Homo sapiens: one gene and its partners. The protein of the gene in region 1 interacts with the protein of each later gene in a pairwise test. Each region holds a gene or a part of one and is shown on either strand. Other genes may lie near its edges.

Region 1 (7,025 bases):
CACCTGAAGTCAGGAGTTCAAGACCAGCCTGGCCAACATGGTGAAACCCGTCTCTACTAACAATACAAAAATTAGCCGGGTGTCCTGGCTGGGCGCGGTGGCTCACGCCTGTAATCCCAACACTTTGGGAGGCCGAGGCGGGAGGATCACGAGGTCAGGAGATCAAGACCATCCTGGCTAATATGGTGAAACCCCGTCTCTACTAAAAATACAAAAAATTAGCCAGGCGTGGTGGCGGGCGCCCGTAGTCCCAGCTCTAGGGAGGCTGAGGCAGGAGAATGGCGTGAACCTGGGAGGCAGAGCTTGCAGGGAGCCGAGATCGCGCCACTGCACTCCAGCCTGGGCGACAGAGTGAGACTCCGCCTCAAAAAAAAGAAAAAATTAGCCGGGTGTGGGGGCGGGTGCCCGTAGTCCCAGCTACTCAGGAGGCTGAGGCAGGAGAATTGCTTGAACCCGGGAGGTGGAGATTGCAGTGAGCTGAGATCACGCTACCGCAGTCCAGCCTGTGCATCGCAGCGAGACTCTGTCTCAAAACAAAAGACAATACCTAAGACGGGTGCTGGGTACAAGGCCTGACATGAAGGAGGTGTTCAGATGATGGCTCTGGGGGAGGGGCAATCTGGGTTACTTCCTGGAGGAGGTGTCCATGGGCTTCAGCAGAGGAAGCCGTGGAGAAGCAGAAACAGGCAGCCTCGAGACAGAGAGAGCTGCAGGTAGAGGAGGAGGGCGAGGTTTGGGGTGGAGGAAGAGGGCCTGGTTTGGGGTGGAAGAGGAGGGTCTGGTTTGGGTTGGAGGAAGAGGGCCTGGTTTGGGTGGAAGAGGAGGGTCTGGTTTGGGTGGAAGAGGAGGGTCTGGTTTGGGGTGGAAGAGGAGGGCCTGGCTTGGGGTGGAGGAAGAGGGCCTGGTTTGGGGTGGAAGAGGAGGGCCTGGTTTGGGGTGGAAGAGGAGGGTCTGGTTTGGGGTAGAAGAGGAGGGCCTGGCTTGGGGTGGAGGTGCCCACAGAAATTGGGGTTTCGTGCTAAGGCCAGGAGCAGGGTGTGAGAACTGTGCCCTGCAGATGCCAGGAGCCACAGAAGCGATGCGAGCAGGTGTGTGACCTCCGGGAAGGCTCCTGGAACTGAGCCCAGCAGCAACCTGGACCCTTGGGAGAGGGCGAGAGCCGGAAGGCACTGGGTCAGGGTGTCACCCGCTCGCTCCACGGCCCCACCTGGGCCCAGCGGGACAAGGTCCACGGTGTTCCTTTGCCCATCCTGGCTTTATGGCGACAAGGCCCAGGCGGGGATGTTGTCTCAGATGGGACGAGGTGTCCAGCTGGGCAGGGCAGGGTGGAGAACCAGGATGTGGGAGCCGGGAAACTGGAGTTGCTGTCAGTCCTTCTCTCTGGGCCTCAGTTTCTCCATTTGACATCCCTTAGCAAGGGGCCATCTGTAATTGTCAGATGGAAAAATCCCACACCAGGAGTCTCAGAGTGAGCTCAGGGTGGAAAGGCTCAGTGCACAGGAGACACAGATAAATATGGTGCGGCCAAGGAAGGCTTCAGAGATCAAGGCTGAGGCCAGGCGCGGTGGCTCACGCCTGTAATTCCAGCACTTTGGGAGGCCGAGGCGGGCAGATCACCTGAGCTCAGGAGTTCGAGACCAACCTGGCCAACATGGTGAGACCTCGTCTCTACTAAAAATACAAAAAATTAGCCGGACTTGGGAGGTTAGCGCCTGTAATCCCAGCTACTCAGGAGGCTGAGGCACGAGAATTGCTTGAACCTGGAAGCAGAGGTTGCAGTGAGCTGACATTGTGCCACTGCACTCCAGGCTGGGCAACAGAGCGAGACTCCATCTCAAAAAAAAAAAAATCAAGGCTGAGCTGGACTCCACAGGGCAGGTGTGTGTGTCTGGGAGATAAGGTGGGCAGGGCACCCTGATTTTATTGGGCTGCAAATGTTAGAAACATATAATGCGAGTTGTTGGGGTAGTAACCGGGACATTCAGAGATTCAGGTATGGTTGGAATCAGGGAGCTTAAAAGTTTTCAGGATGCTTTGCTGGTGTTGGGGTTGCTGTCAAGCAAGCTGTACCCACTGGGGGCATTTACGTCCCCAGCAATTCACTATCTCATTCCATCAGCCTAACAAGACCAGCGGGAAGAGGGTCCCATCTTCTGCATTAATTGTAAAGTCCCAGGGTCTCATGTCATTGGCTAGACTGGGTCACATGCTCATCTCTGAACCAATTACAGAGGCCAGAGGGTGAAATGCTCTCACTGGCTGGACTAGGTCACTTACCCATCTTTGAACCAATCACAGAGGCCAGTGGGTGGGATGCTCTGATTGATCAGGATGAGTCACTTACCCATCCCTGAACCAATCACAGAGGCCAGAGAATGGGCTACTCTGACTGGCCAGGCTGGGCCATTTACTCATCCTTGAACCAATCACAGAGGCCAGAAGGTGGGATGCTCTGATTGGCCAGGCTGAGTTACTTACCTATCCCTTAGCCAATCACAGAGATTAGACAATGGGCTGCTCTGAGTGGCTGTACTGTGTCACGCACCCCTAAACCAATCACAGAGGTTAGAGAATGGGATGCACTGATTGGCTGGACTGTCACTTACGCACCCCTAAACCAATCACAGAGGTTAGAGAATGGGCTGCTCTGAGTGGCTGGACTGTGTCACTTACCCATCCCTAAACCAATCACAAAGGCCATTTGATGGACCCTTTGCCCTTTGGGGGACTGGAGGCTGTTCCTCTCCCTAGGTGCTCTGACTTGATGGCCCTCATTTCCTTCTCCTCCCTCAGTAAGCCCAGAGGTCTCCACCCCACGGGAGGAAGGCTGAGGCCAAGACCCCGGAAGAGATGGACCGCGTGACCAGATACCCCATCCTGGGCATCCCTCAGGCACACCGTGGCACCGGCCTGGTGCTGGATGGAGACACCAGCTACACATACCATCTGGTGTGCATGGGCCCCGAGGCCAGCGGCTGGGGCCAGGATGAGCCGCAGACATGGCCCACTGACCACAGGGCCCAGCAGGGCGTGCAGAGGCAGGGGGTGTCCTACAGCGTGCATGCCTACACTGGCCAGCCGTCCCCACGGGGGCTCCACTCGGAGAACAGGGAGGATGAGGGTTGGCAGGTTTACCGCCTGGGCGCCAGGGATGCCCACCAGGGACGTCCAACATGGGCACTCCGCCCAGAGGACGGGGAGGACAAGGAGATGAAGACCTACCGCCTGGATGCTGGGGACGCTGACCCCAGGAGGCTGTGTGACCTGGAGCGGGAGCGCTGGGCCGTCATCCAGGGCCAGGCAGTCAGGAAGAGCAGCACCGTGGCCACGCTCCAGGGCACTCCTGACCACGGAGACCCCAGGACCCCCGGCCCACCTCGGTCCACGCCCCTGGAGGAGAACGTGGTTGACAGGGAGCAGATTGACTTCCTGGCAGCGAGACAGCAGTTCCTGAGTCTGGAGCAGGCGAACAAGGGGGCCCCTCATAGCTCCCCGGCCAGGGGGACCCCTGCAGGCACAACCCCAGGGGCCAGCCAGGCCCCCAAGGCCTTCAACAAGCCCCACCTGGCCAACGGGCACGTGGTTCCCATCAAGCCCCAGGTGAAGGGGGTGGTCAGGGAAGAGAACAAGGTGCGTGCTGTGCCCACCTGGGCCAGTGTCCAAGTTGTGGATGACCCTGGCTCCTTGGCCTCAGTGGAGTCCCCGGGGACCCCCAAGGAGACGCCCATCGAGCGGGAGATCCGTCTGGCTCAGGAGCGTGAGGCAGACCTGCGAGAGCAGAGGGGGCTTCGGCAGGCAACCGACCACCAGGAGCTGGTGGAAATCCCCACCAGGCCGCTGCTGACCAAGCTGAGCCTGATCACAGCCCCACGGCGGGAGAGAGGGCGCCCGTCCCTCTACGTGCAGCGGGACATAGTACAGGAGACACAGCGTGAGGAAGACCACCGGCGGGAGGGCCTGCACGTGGGCCGGGCGTCCACACCCGACTGGGTCTCGGAGGGTCCCCAGCCCGGACTCCGGAGAGCCCTCAGCTCAGATTCCATCCTCAGCCCGGCCCCAGATGCCCGTGCGGCCGACCCAGCTCCAGAAGTGAGGAAGGTGAACCGCATCCCACCTGATGCCTACCAGCCGTACCTGAGCCCCGGGACCCCCCAGCTAGAATTCTCAGCCTTCGGAGCATTCGGCAAGCCCAGCAGTCTCTCCACAGCGGAGGCCAAGGCTGCGACTTCACCAAAGGCCACGATGTCCCCGAGGCATCTCTCAGAATCCTCTGGAAAACCCCTGAGCACAAAGCAAGAGGCATCGAAGCCCCCTCGGGGATGCCCGCAAGCCAACAGGGGTGTCGTGCGGTGGGAGTACTTCCGCCTGCGTCCTCTGCGGTTCAGGGCCCCAGACGAGCCCCAGCAGGCCCAAGTCCCCCATGTCTGGGGCTGGGAGGTGGCTGGGGCCCCTGCACTGAGGCTGCAGAAGTCCCAGTCATCTGATCTGCTGGAAAGGGAGAGGGAGAGTGTCCTGCGCCGGGAGCAAGAGGTGGCAGAGGAGCGGAGAAATGCTCTCTTCCCAGAGGTCTTCTCCCCAACGCCAGATGAGAACTCTGACCAGAACTCCAGGAGCTCCTCCCAGGCATCCGGTGAGAAGGGGCTCCAGGGAGTGGCTGCTTGGCTCAGGGTCTCAGAGGTTGGAGCAGGGGAGGGTGGGGAGGTGGAGTTTGAGGCTGTCAAAGGGCTGGGGTTGGGGAGACATTGCCTCCTGACTGTTCATCCCCTCAGTCGCTGGTTTGTCTGCCTGTCTATTAAAAATGTAGATTTTGGAGAGAAATGTCAACTTTACCTTAGGGCTTTTGCTTTATGGATTTGGATGCCTTGTTGTTAGGCGCATAAATGTTCATATATGTTTTGTGTGTTTTGTTTTTGTTTTTGTTTTTTGTTTTTCGGTTTTCTTTTTTGAGACGGAGTCTCGCTCTGTCGCCCAGGCTGGAGTGCAGTGGCAGGATCTCAACTCACTGTAACCTCCACCTCCTGGGTTCAAGCGATTCTCCTGCCTCAGCCTCCTGAGTAGCTGGGATTACAGGTGCCCACCACCACTCCCGGCTAATTTTTGTATTTTTAGTAGAGACAGGTTTCATCATGTTGGCCAGGCTGGTCTTGAACTCCTGACCTCAGGCGATCCACCCTGCCTTGGCCTCCCAAAGTGCTGGGATTACAAGCATGAGCCACTGCTCCCGGCCTGTTCATATATGTTTATCCTCTTGGACAGTTGCACCTTTTTGACAATATGAAATATTCCTTGTGTCACTTTTAATGTTTTTTTTTTTTTTTTTTGAGATGGAGTCTCGCTCTGTCACCCAGGCTGGAGTGCAGTGGCGCGATCTCGGCTCACTGCAAGCTCCGCCTCCCGGGTTCACGCCATTCTCTCGCCTCAGCCTCCTGAGTAGCTGGGACTACAGGCGCCTGCCTCCACGCCTGGCTAATTTTTTTGTATTTTTAGTAGAGATGGGGTTTCACCGTGTTAGCCAGGACGGTCTCGATCTCCTGACCTCGTGATCCACCCACCTCGGCCTCCCAAAGTGCTGGGATTACAGGCGTGAGCCACCGCGCCCGGCCACTTTTAATGTTCTTCACCTTGCATGTCGGCCCATCTGTGCATCCAGTTTCTCCTGACTGGCTACTTTGGTCAATCTGTCAGTTTCCCGGATAGTCATCTGCTCTGTCTGTCCATACATCTGTCTCCTTAGCTGCTGGCTAGAGACTCTGTCTCCCGAGCAGAGGTCTGACAAATGTTCTAATGTTCTGCCCTCCCTGCTCCCCTACAGGCATCACGGGCAGTTACTCGGTGTCTGAGTCTCCCTTCTTCAGCCCCATCCACCTACACTCAAACGTGGCGTGGACAGTGGAAGATCCAGTGGACAGTGCTCCTCCCGGGCAGAGAAAGAAGGAGCAATGGGTGAGTCTGGAACCCGTCTCTGCAGAGGCCAGGCTGAGGTCAGACAGCCCCTATTAGGGCCACAGGAAGTTCAAGCAGGACTCAAGCCTGACCTGGGTTCAAGCACTACCCCCACCCCTGGCCGTGCCTCAGTCTCCTGCAGATGTCAGGTAGAAGATGATAAACTTGGTGTCCTTGTATCTCTGGGCTTCTGCTTGGAGAGGCCATATAAGCTGGGGTCTTTGTCCCCATCAGGAGGTCATCTCCAGGATCAAAGACCAAAGGACCAACTCTGCTTGGAGGAGGAGGACACTGGCAATTTGTCATCGTCACCAGCATTAGTTTCTTTTTTTTTTTTTTTTTTTGAGACGGAGTCTCACTCTGTCGCCCAGGCTGGAGTGCAGTAGCACGATCTCGGCTCACTGCAACCTCCACCTCCCGGGTTGAAGTGATTCTCCTGCCTCAGCCTCCTGAGTAGCTGGGATTACAGGCGTGCACCACCACGCCCGGCTAATTTTTTTGTATTTTTAGTAGAGACGTGGTTTCACCATGTTAGCCAGGCTGGTCTCAAACCGATCTCAAGTGACCTGCCCACTTGGGCCTCCCAAAGTGCTGGGATTATAGGCATGAGCCACTGCACCTGGCCACAGATATTTACTTCTAAGAAAGAGAGAGAGAGAGAGAGAAGGCAGGAGGGAGGGAGGGATGGAGGGAAGGAAGGAACAAAGCGAGGAAGGAAGGGAGGGAGGGAGAGGGAGAGACGGAGGGATGTGTCTGTCACACGCTGGCTCGGGGCTTCCAATGAACCACACCTTTAGCACCCTGGTGGTCTCACATGCCCAGGGTTAGGCAGCTCATGAACCCAGGCTTGACTCCAGGACCTACAGGCCACAGAGCTTTGCCTTAGGGGTTTTACTTTATGAATTTTGATGCCTTGTTGTTAGACATGTAATTGTTCATGTATGTTTATCCTCTTGGATGAGAGCTCCTTTTGTCAGTATGAAATATTCCTCACGTCACTTTTAATGACACGAGGAATATTTAGTGCCATGAGGAATATTATGTCCTTTTTTTTTTTTTTTTTTTTTTGAGATGGAGTCTCG
Region 2 (6,697 bases), on another chromosome or scaffold:
CTCGGGAAGCTGAGGCATGAGAATCACTTGAAGCTGGTAGGCAGAGTTTGCAGTGAGCCGAGATTGTGCCACTATACTCCAGCCTGGGTGACACCTTGTCTCAAAAAAAAGAAGAAGAAGAAGAAGAAAAAGGGTGACTTCAGCCCAGAAAAGCAATATTCGACCTTCAGGGTCATTCACCCTTGGCAGAATAGAGTCTGGGAATTTATCTGTACAGTTACTTTCCTAAGCAAATGAGCTGGGGGGTCTCTGAGGCAACTGACCTCCATCTGTTGTTTCTGTATATTTTAAAAGAGAAATCGATAATGGGTGGACCGAGCTCTCCCTTGTCCCCAGAGACATAGTTCAAGTATTCTTGTTCAAGCATTTTTTTGCTTTCAGGTTTTCTTGCCTACAGGATTCTAAGACCTTTTGGCTTTAGCTTGATTTTCTCAACTTATCTCTCAAAATTTTTCAGTAACAAAGCTCCTTCTTCAAGCAGTACTTTATAGAGACCACGATATAGGAAACAGAAAAACTCAGGATTTTATTAGCATATATTTATTTTATAACTTCACATTTATAACATTTTACTTTGTATACCGCCAATAAATGACAATGAAACTATTTTCATAAATACAAAAACACATGAAATTAGGGTGTCATGGTAACCACTGCATCACTTTGGTGGAACAGTATTAAAAATAGAATTTAGAAAGATAAATGATCACAAGTGATACCTTTTAAAAAATGCTTTTCTTACAATCTCAGGATATTCTTCAGTTAAACTGAACCACAATCAGAAAAAATAAGTAATTATTTAAAAGTCAAACCTCTAACAATTGTCAACAACTGCTGGAAGAGTCATCACAAATATAAAAAACAACAAGCACTCAAATTTACAATAAGAGATGAAACGGTTTCTAACACCAGGGTAGACTGGAAGTCAACTGGAAGCATATTAGCTTGTTACCACACAACTGTCAGAACAATAAAGAAAGCATGCATTGAGCAGACAGGAACATCGTGAAAATCCTAAGAGCTTCAATGTATTGAGGGCTTTCTGTGTTCCAGATGTCATGCAACGTGCTTAAAAAGCATTAAGTCATTTGTTCATAACAACCGTGTACTCTCATCTTCTTATTTTTCAGATGTGGAAACTGATGTCTAGAGAAGCTAAGCAATTTGCTTACAGTATGCACAAATCTACCACAAGACTACACATCAACTGTGTTGGAGATTTGCCTAGCACATATAACTAAATGGTGCTCATCTGCACTGCACTCACACACTTACGTGATACACAGGTCTGATCTAAATACACAGGTCTGATCTACACAACCATGTGGTGCTACCGCTTTTAAAATCTGTGAACAATTAAAAGAAGTTTGGATACGTACACAGATACCATAAAGGAAACTTTGCTCTAAGGTCTGCACAAAATGAGCCAATCTGAAAATAAAAGTAAACCTGGTGGTGAATGCTGATGTGTTAAAATTTGGTTATCAGCCCATTTGAATCTAGCTGCATTTACTAGAGACTTAAAGAGTTTAGCCCAGGCATGGTGGCTCACACCTGTAATCCCAGCACTTTGGGAGGCCGAGGTGAGTGGATCACTTGAGGTCAGGAGTTCGAGACCAGCCTGGCCAACATGGTGAAACCCCATTTCTACTAAAAATACAAAAATTAGCTGGGCGTGGTGGTGGGTGCCTGTAATCCCAGCTACTCGGGAGGCTGAGGCACGAAATCGCTTGAACCTGGGAGGCGGAGGTTGCAGTGAGCTGAGATTGCACCACTGCACTCCAGCCTGGGTGATAGAGCAAGACTCAGTCTCAAAATAATACTAATAATAATTAAAAAAATAAAGAGTTTAAAACACATTTTGGAGATGGCACTGCTAGAAAATCTGCAGAACTGCAGAGCACAATTTGAAAGTCATCGTGATGGTAGAGGATGGACTAGTGTGAGTCAGAAAGTTCTGGGCTTCTGTCTAGGCTCCATCACTTCTTGGCATTTTGGTGTTGAGGAGACCACTTAACTCATCTGAGCTTCGGTCTTTCTCTTTATAAAGAGCAAAATTATACCACAACAGGGTGGCTGTATACATTCAATGAGATATACATGAAACACTTTGCACACAGTAGGCCCTCAATAAATGTGAGTTCCTTTTCTCTCCTCTTCATCCTTTGTTGCCACTAAAAGCCTTCTCTAAGCAAACCAGCCTGCTCACTAAATCCAAACCTGCCCTAAACAACCCTGCTCTCAAGCATGCAGTCCCCTCATGTCCCCCTTTCTTTGGGGACACCTCTCAGGCTGTGGACCTCTGGAAAGTAAAGCTTAGGTTGAGTCATCTGTGTCTTCAGGGCCTGACACAGCACCTAGCTCTGGGACCATCTATCTGACACCTAGCAGAAAGGCAGGAAGAACACTTCCCAGGTTAAAACAACAACAACAATGACAACAACAACAACAAAAATCTGCAGGCAGAGGTGGTCCTATTCACTGGGTGATGACACTTTTACTGGGGTGATGAACTTATTTACACAAAGGGTTAGTTAGCCTTTTACCTGTCTAGATCAGCTCCTCATCTAGACTGGAACCTCTCTGAGGGCAGGGCCCATTTTGTAGGTTTATAACTGCTCAACTGCAGGTTATAGCTGTAGTCTTGTAACTCCTTGTACAGTGTCTCACAAAGCCAGGCACTCAGAGAGAATTTGCTGATTTGAGAAAGGAAAACACCTGACAAGTCAAACAGCTTTATTTTTCAAACATTACAAAAGGTATTTTTTTTTTTGACTGCCAATTCTTTCTTCTATGGTATGGGCCAATTCTGGTCTATTTGGGATTATTTAAAGAAAATTGGAAGTACAAGTGTTTCAGATTCCTTCAGGCTTACTATTTAATATTTGGAGTTTAATCTTTTGTTCATTAATAATCTACATAGGGTCTAAGAAACTCCTAGATATTTTTTTCTTAAAAAGAAAAATCAAGGGCCAGGCATGGCGGTTCATGCCTGTAATCCCAGCACTTTGGGAGGCCGAGTTGGGCACATCATTTGAGCCTAGGGGTTCCAGACCAGCCTGAGCAACACAGCAAAACCCTGTCTCTACCAAAAATACAAAAGAATAGCTAGGCATGGTGGTGCGTGCCTGTAGTCCCAGGTACTTGGGAGGCTAAGGTGTGAGGATCACCTGAGCCTGAGCCTGGGAAGTCAAGGCTGCAGTGAGCCGAGATTTTTGTGCCACTGCACTCTAGCCTGGGTGATGAGAGTGAGACCCAAGAAATAAAGAAGAAAGAGAAAAAGAAAAAAGGAAGGAAGGAAGGAAAGAGAGGAGAGGAGAGGAGAGAGGAGGAGAGAAGGAGAGAAGGAGGAAGGGAGGGAAGGAAGGAAGGAAGGAAGGTCAATAATTGGCTTTCATGGTTTGATTTCAGTCCCATACATTAAAGAAAAAAATTTTTTAAAGGTCTTAGCCCACTGGCTGTGGGTCCTGCCCCCAGGTGGTTTTCAGTCGTCTCCCTCATGATTCCAGCGGCCATAGCCATCTCGTTCCTCTGGCTCTTCGATACTCTCATTCTCAAAGGAGGCCTCTTCCTCCTCTTCTTCCCGTATTACCTTCATTAGCTCAAGGAAGCTGGGGGGCGGGCCCTGATCCTTCAGCTCCCTAAGCCGGCACCACAGCATCTGGTTAAGAGTGGCCCCAGCCATGACCTGCTCCAGGCGGACCTGGTCCGCAATACGCCGAGGGATGGCGCGTTTCTCCACCGCTCTCCGGAGCAGGGTTTCTAGCCGTAACACATAGGCTGAGACCTTCTCTCCTTCCTCCTGATAGGTCTTCAGATACCTCACCTGGGCTGTCCTGCGGCTCTCTAGGCTCCCAAACACTTGCTTAAAGGCCTCCAAACACTCTTCTACACTGATGGACGGGTTGTCTGCCTGCACTATGTGCATGAGGTCCAGGGCAGGGCCCCGCAGGCTTTCCGCCAGCCACCTTTTCTTTTCTGCCTCTGTTACTGGCCACTCTTTGACTATCTCCGTGGCCTGTTCCAACCAGACCTCAAAGGACTCTTCCTCTGGGGCTGGGACAGCACTCCCTGAGAATACTCGCAGTTTCCGGTATCTCATGGGTAGCAGGGGCTGAGGCGCATGTGCCATTGCCTGTCCCAACAAATGGGCCAGTAATTCTGGTGAGATGCAGGGCACTGTGGCTGGAGACACGCCCTCCTGCCCCAGGGCTCGAAACATACCCGAGACCGTCTGCCCCTCTTTTTCTAGAAACAGGTTCAATCTTTCAAGAAACTCAGTGTCCTGATTAGGGGTCTTAAAGATCACCTTCCAGACACCCCCCTTTCCCTGGACCTCACTGGGAATGGCCGAGACATCAGTATCTTCCAGAAGCTCTAGTAAGACAGCATTGGCATTCTCCTGCTTCCGGAATATCTTGCCAAGCAGTCTATACCTGCCCAGAGACTTTAAAGTCTCCTGAAGGACCTCCTGAATCTCAGCCTCCTCAAAGTCCGCCGGTATCCCCGTAACCATCAGTGACTTCTGCTCATCCACACTCATTATCCTGCACCAGTCCTCTAACAGTGCCAGCGCCATTGTCCTAAGAATTGACCCACTCTGACTCTACAGGCACCAATTTGTTAGTGGTGCAGCTATGCACTGACTTAATATTGAAAATATCCTGGATGAGCTTCTAACCTTAGAACCCACCAATGAATGGGTCCCAGACTAGGTCACTCAAAGACAGTCACAAAGTTTTCTGGACAAATGACCCTGGCCTACTCAGTGGCAAGAACTCAGGACTTCTTGTCTTTAGGCCTGACCCAGGTGGGCAGGTCGTATCTCAGTTCTAACCACACCTGTGCCCGCAGCTCTGAAGTCCGATTGCCAGTGATTTTCTCAAAGATGCTGGCAGCCACGTGACGCTGACCCTTCTCTGATAGTTGAGGCACCTGGGACAGCTGCTTTCTCCACAGCCTCCTGGTCTCTGATGTTTCGTCTCTCTCCAGTTGATGGGAAAATGCCTTCCACTCTGGGACCCAGAACTCTTGAAGAGAAGCCTCCCAGCAGGGCGGCTTGGACCCCTGGTGAAACAATGTTCAGTTTTACTACACAGCACTCTCTTTCCTTGGAAGCATCCATACTCTAATCTGGAATGGAACTGGGGGCAGATGGCGGTTCTGCTTTACACTGCGCTTGCATTTGTCCCACTCTGTCAGACCCCTTCTTTGCTCACTGTGACTTTTTTTTCTCTTGGGGACTCCAATGAAATCTGGTGTCCCCACCATATGCTCATCAGACCTGTTGATTAATGTCTGAGCCCCAGTTAAGGACAGGATTCAAGGTCTTTGCCATTGAAAGATGAAATCAGGAGATGTGGCTAAATACCTGTTGATGTGTTCCCGAGTGTTCCGCGAGAGGTGAGGAGCTTATTTATTCACCTTTTAGCACAGGAAGACATCACCCACCTCCACACAGTGGTGTGTCTGGCTCTTAGCTCCAGCCAAGCCAAGCTGCTCTGTTACACATAAACAATAAGAACAGGTATTTATGCTTCATTAATATTCAGTAGGAAGACCGTTAATGCACTTATTCAAAAATATGATAATCCTTCACAATACTACTCAATATTAAGTTGCTTTACCTCTTTGATTAACAAAACTAATGAGGAATCACTCAAACGTTTAAAAATAGTTTAATCTAGGTATAACAATTCAGGGAAAAAAATCTCAGGGCCGACTAAGTTAAATCGGGAATTATGAATTAATTCTCTTTTGTTGTGTCTGGAAGGCTTTGCAAACACACATTTGGGCTTTGCTTTTGCTATGAATGGTAAGTGAAATAGTTTGAAGGTTTGTCCCCTCCAAATCTCATGCTGAAATGTGATCCCCAGTGTTGGAGGTGGGGCCTGGTGGGATGTGTTTGGGTCATGAGAGTGGATCCCTTATGAATGGCTTGGTGCCATTCTTGGGGTAATGAGTGGGTTCTTGTTCTATTAGCTTCCTCGAGATCTGATTGTTAAAAACAGACTGCCACCTCCCTCCCCTCACTCTTGCTCCCTTTCTTGCCGCATCTGCTCCCTCTTTGCTTTCTGCTATGACTGGAAGCTTCCTGAGGGGTCACCAGATGCAGATGTCAGCACCATACTTCTTGTACAGCCTGCAGAACTGTGACCCAAATAAACCTCTTTTCTTTATAAATTATCCAGCCTCAGGTATTCCTTTATAGCAACACAAAATAGACTAAGACAATAAGTTACTAACACAACACTCTCCAAGCATTTGTTTCTGTTTCTGTTTTTTGAGACAGGGTCTCACTCTGTTGCCGAGGCTGGAATGCAGTGGTGTAAACACGGCTCACTGTAGTAGCCTTGATCTCTCCTGGGCTCAAGCAATCCTCCCACCTCGACCTCCTGAGTACCTGGGACCACAGGCACATGCCACCATGCCTGGCTAGTTTTTTAAATTTTGTGTAGAGACGCAGTCTCCTTACGTTGTTCAGCCTGGTCTCAAACTCCTGGGCTCAAGCAATCCTCCCGCCACAGCCTCTCACAGTGCTGAATTACACACTTGAATCACCACACCCAGCCTTTCCTAACATTTGAACTTTAACCCATCATTTGAGAAAAAAGAAAAAAGGAGGAAGCACACCTATCAAGGATTTTGTTCTGGAGAACCTGTGAGGATTAGAGAACGTAAAAAAGTTAGAGTTGGC
Region 3 (7,252 bases), on another chromosome or scaffold:
CTTGCGGGCATCCGGAGCGCCTCTGCGACCCGCACCGCGGGCTTCCCGGCAGTGCCCACTGCCAGCCAGTCTCCCAGCCTCTCTGGGTGTCTGCACGTTCCCCTTCCGCACCCTACTGCGGAACGGATCCCAGCGGGGTGGTGGGGGTGCCCACAGATCCTGCAGGTGCAGGGGTGAGGGTGCCGTCAAACCAGCACTGTCTCTGCGGTCTGGCACTCCGTAGCTGCGGGATGGCTGACAATTGTCTCCGCCCCTGGCAGGGCTAGGGAGGGAACTGCCATCAGTTCACCCAGCCTGGCATGTTGGGAGGTGCCACGCTGGCTGGGGTAGGTGGGTGGGCCATCTAGTCCAAAATATCAGGTTCAACTAGAGGCGGTTTTACCTTGAAGCTAATGAAGTTTAGGGTCCTTCAGGTTCCTTCAGCTGCCAGGTCCTTGGTGGTAATTTGGTATTAGTAGTCTTGTAGTCCTTTTCTTAAAGAGCCCCACGCCCAAACTACAGTAAGCTTTGGACCTCACAAAATTTCCATCCATCCCTGGGTCCAACTCCTACCCTTTCCACTGCCAGTCTCTTGGAAGAACTCACAGCTCTGGCTGACCCAGAGACCATCCGCCGAGGCTGGGACAATCCCTTAGTGCCTGAAGGACGAAGTGCTGGGGCAGGAGGCTGGAAGGTTTGGGGTTGAGAGGCAACTTCTGGGCTGCAGGGAAAGGGTCTGGCTGCCTGGCCTTCCTCTCTGGCCCAGCTAGTCCCTTGACCCATCCTACCACCACTCACTATAGTGATCAATTGTCCTTGTTTGCTCAGGACGATCTCAATTTTAGTACTGAACATCCTGTATCCTAGGAAACCCTTGAGTCACAAGGCAAACTTGGACAGTTGGTCAGTGCACACCCAAAACCTTCTCAGGGCTGTGGTGCAGGGGTAGGGGAGATTTCTTTGCTATGGTGCAGATTTGGCTTAGGCCTCCACAAGGCCTAACAATCTATAACTGCTGCTTGCAAGAAGGCCTGTCCAGGCTCTCCAGAAACCAAAAGAGGAAAAGTTTGCCGACTGTGCACTTCTTCACTCCAGCGGGTTGCAAATTCCTGTGCATTGGCTGCTTTTGTGTAAGCAGGGGGAAGGGAAGGGCATCTGAACATGGCCAGCAGGCATCCTGATTGCACTGCGAAGTCTGTAGGTTTACTCTGTCCTGTCAACTGTGGTGGCCACAGAGAAGGGGTCCTCGTCACCCCAATACCTCTCTGAGCATCACCTGTGTGGCTAGCTTGTAACTCCGTCTTGGAGGCAGCTGCATTGTGTTGGGAGCAGGCCCTCTGGCTGAGGCACATCTGACAGTCTCCACCAAAGACTTCTGTAATATCTAGTCGGCCTGGGCCCTCAGGCCCTGGGTCCCACTATCTCCCACCCCCACTCCTAATGCAGGAACTCTTCCTCGGGACTTTCCTGCCAGGTGGAGGGGCAAATTGCTGGGACCTGCCCAGATATTTGTAAGACAGCCAGTAGCACCCACTTTCTCCTTAAACTAACCTTGGGGATTGATAGTTGTCCTCTCCCTGCCATTCCCAGAGGCATTTCGAGGGCATTTTGGAGCACTCTTGGCTTGTCGAAGTGAGAGTACATGCTCATCACCTGTGGAATGTGTTGGGGGAAAACTACCTCCCCCAGCCCCAGGGGATCTGAGGATTCCACTCTGGTGCTGTGGGCGTGTCCCTGGACCTAGAAGCAGCTTGGGTGGGGTGAGCATGGGGGTGGGGCGAGTATGGGGGTGGGAGTTACTTGCTTGCCCAGTGAGTGGAGAGAGGCCATCAGATGGGGTGAGTGATGTTTCTATCTGCCTCTGTCAACCCAGCAAGCCCCTTCCTGGCTGGAAGCTCAAGCCACCCAAACCCTCCAAGACTTGCTGTGAAGGTTCCTCTCCAGATCAGTTTGGGAGCACCATGCTCACAGCTGGGGGTGCAGAAAGAGCCACCTGTGGGCACACACAGCACCAGTCCCCTGCTGGCATGCCCTACCTGCTTCTGCAGCCCATTGCTCAGCACCCCAGGCCTGCTCCAGTCCCTGGGTTTGGGGCACAGGGCCCTGACTCCCCAAAGGGATGCCAGTCATGTGGCTGCCAATTAGGTACCTTGGAGGCTGAGGTGAGCTGGTATTCAGACAAACTCGTGGACAAGAGAGTGGAAGAGTGGCCACAGCTAGCCCAGTCCTGGTTTGTGGGTCAGGGCCAGCCCCTGAAAGTGAGGAGAATCTGCCCCTGGAGGTCAGTAGTAAGGCTGCATGCAGCCCCGATGGAGTGAACGCCTCCAGTAGCACAGAGGTTTCTACGGCAAGAAGTTGCCCCTTGCCAGCCTGTCAGGCCCTGTGCTTGCTACACTGTCTAGCCCCCAGCTCTGGTGGGTGTGAGGGGCTGGCACCAAATATGCCGGTGGCAGCGGTGCCAAAGCCTCCCTCAGACCCTGAGGGCATGGGTCTGGCGGCAGTGGCAGGGGAGAGATCAAGCTCGCAGTCCTGAGGCTGGTGAGTCTGAGCAAAATGATATATTTAACATCAAATATACTCAAGGACTATTAGGATTAAGTATTCAAGATGAAGGGGAAAGTGAAACCCTCTGAGCTGCAGATGAGGCATCTCATTAGAAGCAGCGCTTTTCTGTTTTCTCAAAGCCTGACTTCCCTGCCTAGCAGAGAGGAATATGGCTGCAGCCCGCTGCTCCCCATCCCTGTCAAGCACTGGGGCCTCCCAGGGCTTAAAGGGTAAGACCTAGCCTCCAGGTCTCCTTCAAACCAGATAATCTCCCCCCATCCCCCTGCATTGTCTGGAGTGCCACAGTTTACAAAGCACATTAACATGCATTAGCTCATCTGACCCCCACAGCAACCATAGATACAGGAAGAGTAGGTCTCCCACCTCACAGCCAAGGAAACTGAGGCCCAGATAGAGAAAGAGACTTGCTAAGGTCCACTGTTGGTAATTGGCAGAGATGAGATAGAATCCCAACTGGTGGCCCTTCAGCCCGTTTCTCTTTCCCTGGGTCTAGTCCTCAGAAGTGATTGCCAGGACCAAGCCTCCAACACATCTGTCTGGAGCCCTCCTTGGGCTGAAGAAAAATCATTATTTCTATCCCACCTTGGAACTCTGTACTGTCTAGGCAAAGAAAAAAGACTTGGGATTTAAAAGTAGGTGGCCTTCCGGCCAGGCGCAGCAGCTCACGCCTGTAATCCCATCACTGTGGGAGGCTGAGGTGGGTGGATCACGAGGTCAGGAGTTCGAGACCAGCCTGGCCAATATGGTAAAACCCCGTCTCTACTAAAAAATACAAAAATTAGCTGGGCGTGGTGGTGTGTGCCTGTAATCCCAGCTACTCGGAAGGCTGAGGCAGAAGATTCGCTGGAACCTGGGAGCCGGAGCTTGCAGTGAGCCGAGATCACACCACTGCACTCCAGCCTGGGCAACAGAGCAAGACTCCATCTTAAAAAAGAAAAAACAGAAAGAAAGAAAAAGGAATGAAAAGAAAAAAAGTAGGTGGGTAGGTGGCCTTCCTAGGGTAGGCAGCCAGAACATCAGCCCCAGGATTCTGGGGAGAAGCAGGGTCCAGGAGAAGAGATGGGCACTGTCTCTTTTCCTGCCTTATGAGTTACAGAGCAAGAATCGTCAACTCCATAATAGCAGCAGGAATCTTTGTTTTGTTCAGTGCTGTATCCCTAGTGCCTTAGAACTGTGCTTGGCACATAATACATGCTCAGTAAATATTTGTAGAATGAGAAAAGCTTTCAAGGCCATGCCTGTGCTTGCTTCGAGAGAAGTTGAGATAAGCTCTCCCGCTCCATGGAGTCAGGATGCTTTTGGGGGTGCTGCTGGGGTCAGGAGTAGTGCTGTAAGACTCGGTAGGATCGTTTGTGCCCTGAAGAGGGTTAACTTTGCCAAACAATCCGGGAAGCAACACGAAACCCCGGGCAGAACTGGTAGGAAGGAAAAGGATGTGATCAGAGAAATATTGCTCTGAAGAAGAGACAAAAATCAAGGCTGAGGGTCTGGGAGTGACAGATGGGATGCGTCCTCCAGACAATCATTGAAGACCACGACCCTGGGATCGGAGCAAAGACGCTCACCGAGCTAGGACCTAGAAGCCTCCAGGTGGCGCTGCGGAGCCGGACAGCCGTGCGTCTCCACTCCCCATTAACCCGGGAGGGTGGAGGCCTCAGGAAATGTGTGCATTTATGCAGTAGCAGGAGTGCAAACCTCATACATTGAGGGAGAAAGGCAGCGGGAGACGGCCACGAGATTCCCCCATCTCTTTGAATATAATTTTAGATTGAGATTCAGATTAAATCCGAGGGGAAAACACTTTATGAGGCTGAAAGCTGTGTCGTTGCCAGAGACAGGGTTATGAGCTATCAAATGCAATTACATTAAGACAGATTATACTGGGCAAATTGAGCCATTTAGAAGGTGAGAATCAAAGAAACGGCTCTGATCCTCTTTTCCCCCTTCTCTCTCCCTCTCCCTCTCTCTCTAAATTGCAGTTCGTAGTTCCTTCCAATTCTGAGGCACAAAAGTAGGTGAGACTGCTTTTGTATCTGCGAAGTGCTTCACTCCTGAATGTAATTCTAGCTGAGTGCAATCTAGGTTAAGAGCCGGACAAGCGGGTAATTAGAGCCCGCTAGCTGCCCGAAGACCGGCCGCCCCTCCAAAGCGCGCCCCGAGTCGGCGCCCTTCTCCCGGCCGAGCCTAGCTGCGGCTGGACACGGAGCGCCCGAGATGATGGTGCTGGACAAGGAGGACGGTAGGTGGCGGGCCGGGGTCTCGACGCCCCTCACCCCCTCGCCCCCTGCCGCGGCGCGCAGGCACACACACGCGGGGACACGGGCGCACACCTGCTGGGCTGTGCGGGGATTGCGGGGCGGGCGGCGCGCTGGGGGCCGGGGCTGGGGCGGGGGGAAGTACCGGGGGACAGCCGGGCGGAACTTGCGGGGGGAGGAGGTCGAGCCCCGGGCTGCACGCGCCCGGGGCCGCACGCCCCCCGGGTCCCGGCCGCGAGCCGAGGAGCTGTGCACTGGCCGTGTGCTGCGCCGCGGGGCCGCGCGGAGGCTGGGGCTCCCTTGCGATCTCCGCGCCGCGGAGGTTCGCTCTGAGCATTTCGTGTCTGAGGCTGCTGCTCTCACCGCAGCCATCACCCTCGCGCCAGCCGCCGCGTAACCCGAGAGGCGCTGAGCGCCGAGCAAATCAGCGGCTTCGGGGAGAATCGGGCTCCAGAGCTCGGGGCAAGCGGGAGCGCGGGAGGACGGCGCGAGCGCCAGGGTGCCCGGCAGGCGAGGGGAAGGCGGGTTGGACCCTCCGGGGGACATCTGCATGAGCGTGACTCGGTGAGAAAGAGAGCCGCCTCTTGTGCCGGCCCGCTAGCTCCCTGTCTCTCTGAGCGCGGAGGCGGGAGTTTGGCCCAGAGGAAGAAAGTGTCCCGCCGCCGGCCGGTAGCACTTGTGCGGGAGCGGCCTGCGAGAGTGGCACGGACCTTCCGTGGTCGAGCCTCAGTGCGCCCTAGAAAACTGCAGGGCACGGGAAAGGTCGGAACAGAGGAGCCCATGGCTGCTGGAAGCCACTAGCAGGTGGTCCCATAGACCCCAAAGCCTTACTGGCAGGGAGTGCCCTGCAGTTAAGTGTCCTAGAAGGCTGGGGATCCCAGCCCCCTTGGGGGGAAAGCCAAGTGGGTGCCCTAAGATGAGTCCCCAGGGTAAGGAGAGAGGCAGTACCTTGGCTGTCCCAGGACCTCCTGCCCTGTAGGTGAGGCCTGTGTGTTGGTGTTGCAGGGGCATTTGTATGTGACTGTTGGTGCCCACGCTGCCGCCGGCGTTCTGCCATTGGTGAGGTACCGAAAGGGTAGGTTTGCTTTGAGTCAGCGGGAATCCTCTTAAAGTGACTGTAGTGGCCATCCTCTGCCCTTCCGTTCAGGAGTCTCTGCTGGGCCTGAGCCCTCTGTCCCTGGGGCAGCGTTGTTATTGATGTGGCCAGTTGGTGAAAATGCAAAGCTAAGTGACTTGCTCAGGGTCACACAGGATGTTCGCATTGCCGCTGCCAGGTGCCGATGCCCCCAGGCTGCTACCGCCTTCTGAGACATCCAGCAGGGAGGGGGAATTTGAAGTATCTGGCCTGGGGGTGGCATCTAGGAGGACCTGTGGCTCTCAGTATGTGTGTAGGAAGAGAGAGGATGGGGGGAACCTCAGTGCTTCTGGGCTAGCTGGGGTGGGACATCATCTTCAATATGTCTTCTCTATTCACGGACCCCTTCCCTGGAGCCCCATGTAGGCCATCGGAGAACTTCATATAGAATGAAAAGGAGAAGAAGGGGTCTGGGGTTGGGCCAGACAGGGAGGGAAGAGACCTTGATTTGGTGCCTTTCATCACGAACTCCCCATGTTCACCTTCCCTCTTGGTAAAAATGAAGGGCTTGGAGAAGCCAGGGGAGAGGGTACTTCCTTGGTACCTGGAGATACTGTCACTATGGGGAGCATGCAAGGTTCATCTTTAGCAGAGGTTATTTGGCATACTTGGCTCCCCAGGCCCAAGCCAGGAATCCAGAAGACTCGGGCTCTGTACGTGAGAGGCCTCAGGCCAGGGAGATTGGTCTCATGCCAACAAGATGACACCCCCTACCTGCACCCAGGATCTTGCTCTGCCCAGGCACCACATGATGCCTCTGGCTCTGAGATAATACAAAGGGTTTCAGATGAGCCTTGAGTGAGAATGGATTTCTGGAGGTCATTTTAGCCAGCTCCCTGCCTCCAAATTGCAGTGTACCTCAAGCACCCTGGGCAGATGTTTCTTCTGGTTTCTGCTAGATCTGTGGAAGAGAGCTCCAGATGCCCCTCCATCCCCAGCCTGTCCAGCCTAAACAATATGGTGCCCACTACCATGGAGCTGCTGGGCTCTGGGGTCCATTACAGCACAAGCACATCCACTGGTGTCCTAAGCAGCCACCTATTCTTGTCCTACCCAGCCCATAGCTGTCTTTCAAAAGCGACGTTTCTGCTCATGCATCTGCACTCCACTCCCTATTAAGAGGAGTCTGGCCTCCCATAGTTCCAGGAAACCTTGAAGATGGCATCTTCAATTGGGGGAGGGAGAAAGGTTCTGGATGCACTCATCTGCTCCTCCAAACCAACCACCTATCTTCTTCTTGAACGCTTCTGCCCTCTCAGCAGGTGGCTATCTGAACTGGGTGGCAGCATTCCCCCACCCCCCGGCTCCCCCAAAGGGT
Region 4 (7,025 bases), on another chromosome or scaffold:
TTTCCTTGCTTACAGTTGTCAGGATCGTGTATACGCAATAGTACAAAATTACTGTAATCACAAACCAGGCGGCAATATTTTATTTGCATCAGAAGGTCTGATTCTGGCATTTCACTCGCCTATCTTTTGAAGACTGCAAATTGAACCAAGTTTTCTTAGATCCTGTGAACTCTTGCTCAGAGTTACATAGCCAACCAGTGTACCTATTTTTTTTTTTTGAGACGGAGTCTCGCTCTGTTGCCCAGGCTGGGGTGCAGTGGTATCATCTCAGCTCACTGCAACCTCCACTTCCTGGGTTCAAATGATTCTCCTGCCTTAGCGTCCTGAGTAGCTGGGATTACAGGCATGTGCCAGTAAGCCCGGCTAATTTTTTTTTTTTTTTTGTATTTTTAGTAGAGACAGGGTTTCACCATGTTGGCCAGACTGGTCTCAAGCTCCCAACCTCAGGTGATCCACCTGTCTCGGCCTCCCAAAGTGCTGGGATTACAGGCGTGAGTGACTGCACCCAGCCCAGTGTACCTATTTAAGAACAGAGAAAACTTTCCACTTTTAGCAAATGGAATATTGCCATTTATTCCTGAAGAAAATTGTCTGTGTTTTTAATGCCCTATGGCCGTTTCTCCACACCAGCTATTCCTGTGGTAGGCTTTTTCTCTCCAGGATCATTCTAACATGATTTTATAGGAATGGTCATAAGAGGAGGGCCCATCACTTGCTGCTTATTCACACTGCGTATTCATCCTAGAAAAATGCAGTGTGCCGGGCATGGAGACCCCTTATTTTAAACTTTTATTTTAGGTTCGGGGTACATGTGCAGGTTTGTTATACAGGTAAACTCTTGTCACAGGGGTTTGTTGTACATATTATTTCATCACCCAGGTATTAAGCCTAGTACCCAAGTGTTATGTTTTCTGCTCCTCTCTCTCCTGCCATCCTCCCTCCCCGCTCAAGTAGACCCCAGCGTCTGTTGTTTACCTCTTTGTGTTCATGTGTTCCCTCATTTAGCCCTCACTTACAAGTGAGAACATGCAGTATTTGGCTTTCTGTTCCTGCATTAGTTTGCTAAGGATAATGGCCTCCAGCTCCATCCGTGTTCCTGCAAAAGACATGATCTCATTCTTTTTTGTGGCTGCATAGTATTTCATGATGTATATGTACCACATTTTCTTTATCCAATCTGTCATCGCTGGGCATTTAGGTTGATTCCATGTTGTCGGTATTGTGAAGAGTGCTGCAATGAACATTCATGTACATGTGTCTTTATGGTAGAATGATTTGTATTCCTCTGGGTGTATTCCCAGTAATGGGATTGCTGGGTCAAATGGTAGTTCTGTTTTTAGCTCTTGGAGGAATCACCATACTGCTTTCCACAAGGGTTGAACTAATTTACACTCCCACCCACAGTGTATAAATGTTCCCTTTTCTCTGCAACCTCGCCAGTGTCCTGTTCCTGTTGGAAGGGCTTGAGGTGTTGCCCAGAGAGCCACTGACTGCAGCCACTGCATTTCTGACTATTTGATATCATTGTTTTGGGAAGTGAGTCTTTCCATTTATCCTGCTCTCAGGGTACCTGGGCAGCTGCAGGATGATCTTACCCGCAGGGAGCAATGATTCATCCTCAGGGACTTTGGCAGTTTTTCTTGTGCAAGGGCAGCTTGCACTCCCAGGTCAAGGGTATTAGTGCCCTCATTGCATCTAATCTCAGGTTTCCCAGGTCAGATCTCCCTCCCTTTTGCCACTGTGATTTCTTCCTATTCAAATCATGAATCATAAAGAGGAGCTCACGGAAAATCTTTTTATAGAAATGGACGTATTATTTCTATGCCTGCCTTTCTATTTTGGAGGCAGGGAGAAGGGGAAGATGCAAGGCCGGGTCACAGCCGGACAGGATGGGGGCTCTGGTGTCAGCCCTTACCTGCATTTAAAACTGAGATAGCTTTTTCTGACACAGTAAAAAATAATTTGTGCTTTTCAAGAAGTGGAATGTGACCAGGCGTGATGGCTCACGCCTGTAATCTCAGCAGTTTGGGAGGCTGAGGTGGGCAGATCACCCGAGGTCAGGAGTTTGAGACCAGCCTAGCCAACATGGTAAAACCCTGTCTCTACTAAAAATATAAAAGTTAGCTGGGTGTGGTGGCAGGTGCCTGTAATCTCAGCTACTTGGGAGGCTGAGGCAGGAGAATCACTTGAACCTGGGAGGCGGAGGTTGCAGTGAGCCGAGATCGCACCACTGCACTCCAGCCTGGGCAAAAGAACAAGACTCTGTCTCCAAAAAAAAAAAAAAAAAAAAAAAAAGTGGAATGCATTCAAACACAAAACCGCCCTAGCTAATGAAAAAAGGTGTTATCATTAAAAATTATGACCGATTAAAGGGTGAGTTTTAATTATTCATCCAGAGGAATTAGCCACCTTTCGGCTAAAGATGACAGACAGTGGGACAGTTAATGCCTTTGCGTGCACCCCTTTCAGAGAGTGCTTAATGGGACTTGGATTTTCTTTTCTTTTTGATAGGTTGCTGAAAAGCCAGGAGTCAAAATGACTGAGCGCTTTGACTGCCACCATTGCAACGAATCTCTCTTTGGCAAGAAGTACATCCTGCGGGAGGAGAGCCCCTACTGCGTGGTGTGCTTTGAGACCCTGTTCGCCAACACCTGCGAGGAGTGTGGGAAGCCCATCGGCTGTGACTGCAAGGTACCTGCTGCGGGCCTCTGCGGGTCCCCGGCGCTCCCCTAGGAAACACGGGTTTCTCTGTGGTTTGTGCTGAAGCCCTGATCCACCACTGAAGTCTGTCTCTTGAGCCCCCTCTGAGGGGCGTGGACCCTGCGTGTAGCCTTTCGGAAGCTTCTTCCCTCTAGCGAATGTGATCTCTGCCCACAAGCACTGGGTGAGGGCCTTGCCAGGACTTTTGTGCTTAGTATCTCTAAGTACATTTTCTGTATTCTAGCAATTAGTGCCCTTATCTAACTACCCAGCTGCCTACCAATACTGGAACTTTCTTAAGGGTGGTGCTCTCTTCCTCTTGTCTGTTTGCCCCGTGGTGAGTAACGTGGAGCAGGTGCTGTGCTCAGTCAATATTTGATGAATGAATGTGTACATGAGAGAACCAGAGTTGGTTCCTGGATAAATGGGCACATAAAAGCACAAAGTCCTTGGAAGATTGTGAGCTCTTTTCCTTTAATGAGAGAAGGACAGGATTTGTATTGTTTCCTTTCAATGGGGAAATGTGTTCATGGCTCTCCTGGTATGTCACAGCGTGGTTCAGCAAAGACCACTGGTCACTTGTACCAACTGCCCCGTGGTTGAGGGTGGTGAACCCTGACCTGCGCTTCTCAGCAGACTCTTGTTCCAACCTGGATTGCTGAAGGACACCCTGGGGGACCCATCCATAGCTCTGAACTCTCTGATACCTTCACCCGCAAACGGCTTCTAAAACACTCCAGTGAAACCCCTCATGTGGCTGTCATCCTGAGTGCCGTGAAACTGGCTACAAAATGGGATTCCTTTGGCATCTCTAAAGGAATTCCCAACTGAATGGGCACCAAGTCAGTTCATGGCATTTTACTATCTCTTTTCTGCTCTCGTTGCTTTGTGCTCTGTAGGGATTTTTGCTGCTCTCCTCCCTGGTCGTTAATATCAGCACATTGCCGCTGACTGATTGACTTAGGCCATGCATGCAGTTGGATCATTCTAGCACATCCAACATGTGTTCCTTCTATTTCCTTCTCTGATCACATCATTCTTAGGAAAGACAGGAATCAGAAGGCTGCACCATCACTTTCTGTTCCCAGGGATTTAGTGACAGTTGAGGGATGGTTTCCATCTTGTAGCGAAAGAGACCTCTGCCTTGAGCAGAGACGAAAGAGGTACAGCACCAGCCCCCTAAACCAATGCTGCAGCCCTGTGTCTTTTGGCTTCAGGGCAGATGCTGTGCTGAATGTAAAAGAAACGAAACTCAACAGTGGTATTGTGCCAAACCTTTGAAATACCATAAGCAAAAATAGCTGATCTGGCTACTCTAAAAGTTGTGTATCTTCCTGTATCCTGTCTTGCCTGCTGCGTGTCTCACTGCACCTGACGACTTTTCTCTGTCCCTTTTCATGTATTTAACAGGACAAGCATGAGAGCTCAGCCACCAGACTGCCCAGTTCCAGCCCAGGCTCTGTGTCTCACTTGCTGTGTGGCCTTGGGTCAGTTACTTGACCCTTCCGTGCACATCTCCACATCTATAAAATGGGGAGAACCAGGCCAGGGGCATAGGCTCAAAGCCTATAATCCCAGCACTTTGGGAGGCCAAGGCGGGTGAATCAATTGAGGCCGGGAGTTCGAGACCAGCCTGGCCAACATGGCGAAACCCTGTGTCTACTGAAAATACAAAAATTAGCTGGGCGTGGTGGTGCATATCTGTAATCCCAGCTACTTGAGAGGCTGAGGCACGAGAATCACTTGAACCTGGGAGGCAGAAGTTACAGTGAGCCGAGATCATGCCACTGCACTCCAGCCTGGGACACAGAGTAAGACTCTGTCTCAAAAAAGACCCAAAAAAAACTGGGGAGAACCAGGGGTCTGCTTCATAGGGTCTTTCTAGTATGTAGATACAAGCCCTTGCACTCGCACTCGTACTCTTCTAGCAGCTGACAGGGTAAGCTCCAGACTGCCACCTTTCTGCTGACTACTTCCTTATTCTTTTCGTGACACGTCCCTTCCACACACCTTTCAGAAGCTTCACCCTCTCTCTTTGTCGCTTTTCATTTTGGAAACATCAATAAAAATGTCCAGTTTGAGGAAGAAGTAGATAGCCCGAGAAAAATATAATTATAAAAGCTTTAGCTGGAAAAGAAATACTTACGTAGGTGAGAGGTTCAGATATCATCTGGCAAAAGGTAAGTCTCACTTTCAAGGACAGATTTTGGATATTTGGGGCTAATCATCCCTGACCAGTGGCTGAAATAAAAACAAAACAAAAATCACTTGCTGTTTCTCCAGTGATTTAGTGGAAAGACCCTTAAAAGCCGTCATCCTTCCACGCATGTTTTATGAGCAAATAAACAAGAGTCTCCCAAATGGAGCCAAAATCATCAAGGCTGCTGTCAAGCCAGGAGTGAATTGTGCTGAACTTTTCAACCCGGATTAATGTTTTGAGATACGTGGGGTTACACTGTATGATTTTGTACATTTTGGAACAAAAAGAGACATTGAGTTGAAGCGAGACCTTGGCATTTGGGGCTTTTGATGCTTTAGGCGTGCTTTTCTTGACTTTCAAAAATAATCGGGTAGTTGGGTTTGTAGTGGAAGCAATGATAGAAAAAAATGTTCCTGTTTTTTTCTGGAAGTAAAGCCCACAATCCTGGCAGGCGGGGAGATACCTGATAGAGGAACTGTGCTCTTAGGTCTGGTGGCCAATCTCTTCTCTTAAAATAGCACAGCCACCACAGGCCTCAGCTACTTCCCTCTAAAGGACATGTTCATGTGTGTGAGTTTTAAATGTTGGCATGCCTATGGGAATTAGGCTAATTTTGAGAGTCCTGACCTACTTAAATGAGACAGGCAAGACTTCAGAGCCTGTTATATAGTTTGAACATCCTCTCTATGTAGCCACTGAATTGTAATCTTTATTTCTATTAAGTTACTCTGGGAAAATGCTGTGATCTCAAAGGGTAAAGATTATTGATTTGTATGGCCAGTGTAATAGTGGAGAATAGACAATGCTAATACAATTTTATGATCCTCTGACATTACATGCTTCCTGAACCTTTTCTTGGATACCTGTTAGCATTAACAAAATATTTTCGTAGACTGATTACAGAGTTTTTGGGGGATCTGCCTACGTTCTGGGCTTCAAAAATTCAACCAACTAAAGAAAAAATAGGGCTGGGCACAGTGGCCCACGCCTGTAATTCCAGCACTTTGGGAGGCCGAGGCAGGTGGAACACTTGAGGCCAGGAGCTGGAGACCAGCCTGGCCAACATGGCGAAACCCCGTCTCTACTAAAAATACAAAAATAAGCTGGGTGTGGTGGCGTGCACCTGTAATCCCAGCTACTTGGGAGGCTGAGGCAGGAGAATCATTTGAACCTGGAAGGTAGAGGTTGCAGTGAGCCAAGATTGCGCCACTGTACTCCAGCCTGGGTGACAGAGCAAGACTCCATCTTAAAAAAATAAAAATAAAAAATAGGCTGGCCAATAACTCCAGAGACAGCTGCTAATACTGTGCATTTAACAAATTGGTGATTTTAAGCCCTGGGCGACACACGTAACCTAGACTTTGAATGTTCCATGGGTCTGCAAGCAATGCCATGAAATTGGACTGGCCACCATACCCACCCATGTGCTTGGAGGGTGCTACAAAGAGAAAAAAAAAATAATAAACAAGAACAAAAGATCTGCAGATCAGAAACTAGCATTCAGGGTTTAGTTTCTAGTGGTAGTCTTTGAAACCACTGTGTATTGCCTGATGACTTGTTCCAGGCACTTGTAAATGCCTAAACTGCATGATCTAAATTTCTCCTAACACCCTATAGGTAGGAACTTTTTTCATTCCATTTTATGGAGTAGCCGCTGAGGCCTAGAGAGGATGAGGATCTTGCCAAGGGTTAAAGGGATTAGGAAGTATCCGAGGTACAATTTGAGCCCAGACCCGGAGGGTCCTCACCTAGCATGTGATGCCACCTGCTACCTGCAGCCTCGGGCAGGACCCTGTCTATGTGACTCTCGGGCCAGATGTGGTCAGTCCTTATGAGTAAGAGATGGTGACCACCTGGCCTCAATCAAGTGACCTTCAGTCAGAGGCCCCTACTCTTCTCATGGGCCCCTTTAGATGGTGATGATTACATTGCAGAATTGAGGCTCAAGTTGTTTCACAAACTCTCTTTCCAGCTTTTGTAGCTAATAGGAAACATTGAAGTGATGATCAAATTGGCTGTAAAAGTCTCAGTTAATGTTTGGTAATGGACAGAAATGTTCAGTGATATTTTGGCAGAAAGCAACCTGGCAGGGCTCTGAAATAGGAGACGAAGGTTTTCACACATA

Evidence for each region.
Region 2: the proteins of MISP (region 1) and PNMA2 interact in binary tests that used the Homo sapiens proteins (3 or more experiments, as listed by UniProt).
Region 3: the proteins of MISP (region 1) and LMO1 interact in binary tests that used the Homo sapiens proteins (3 or more experiments, as listed by UniProt).
Region 4: the proteins of MISP (region 1) and FHL2 interact in binary tests that used the Homo sapiens proteins (3 or more experiments, as listed by UniProt).

Annotation. Positions count from the first base shown.
Region 1 is NC_000019.10:754,097-761,121, forward strand, and holds part of MISP (mitotic interactor and substrate of PLK1), read left to right. Parts: intron 1-350; exon of another isoform or gene 351-713; intron 714-2,793; 5' UTR 2,794-2,850; coding exon 2,851-4,630; intron 4,631-5,812; coding exon 5,813-5,943; intron 5,944-7,025. UniProt on the Homo sapiens protein: Plays a role in mitotic spindle orientation and mitotic progression.
Region 2 is NC_000008.11:26,504,177-26,510,873, forward strand, and holds the end of PNMA2 (paraneoplastic antigen Ma2), read right to left. Parts: intron 5,502-6,697; 5' UTR 5,372-5,501; intron 5,068-5,371; 5' UTR 4,580-5,067; coding exon 3,485-4,579; 3' UTR 525-3,484; downstream 1-524.
Region 3 is NC_000011.10:8,260,869-8,268,120, reverse strand, and holds the start of LMO1 (rhombotin-1), read left to right. Parts: upstream 1-4,242; 5' UTR 4,243-4,758; coding exon 4,759-4,783; intron 4,784-5,270; exon of another isoform or gene 5,271-5,363; intron 5,364-7,252. UniProt on the Homo sapiens protein: May be involved in gene regulation within neural lineage cells potentially by direct DNA binding or by binding to other transcription factors.
Region 4 is NC_000002.12:105,382,027-105,389,051, reverse strand, and holds part of FHL2 (four and a half LIM domains protein 2), read left to right. Parts: intron 1-2,511; 5' UTR 2,512-2,535; coding exon 2,536-2,691; intron 2,692-3,152; exon of another isoform or gene 3,153-4,941; intron 4,942-7,025. UniProt on the Homo sapiens protein: May function as a molecular transmitter linking various signaling pathways to transcriptional regulation. Negatively regulates the transcriptional repressor E4F1 and may function in cell growth.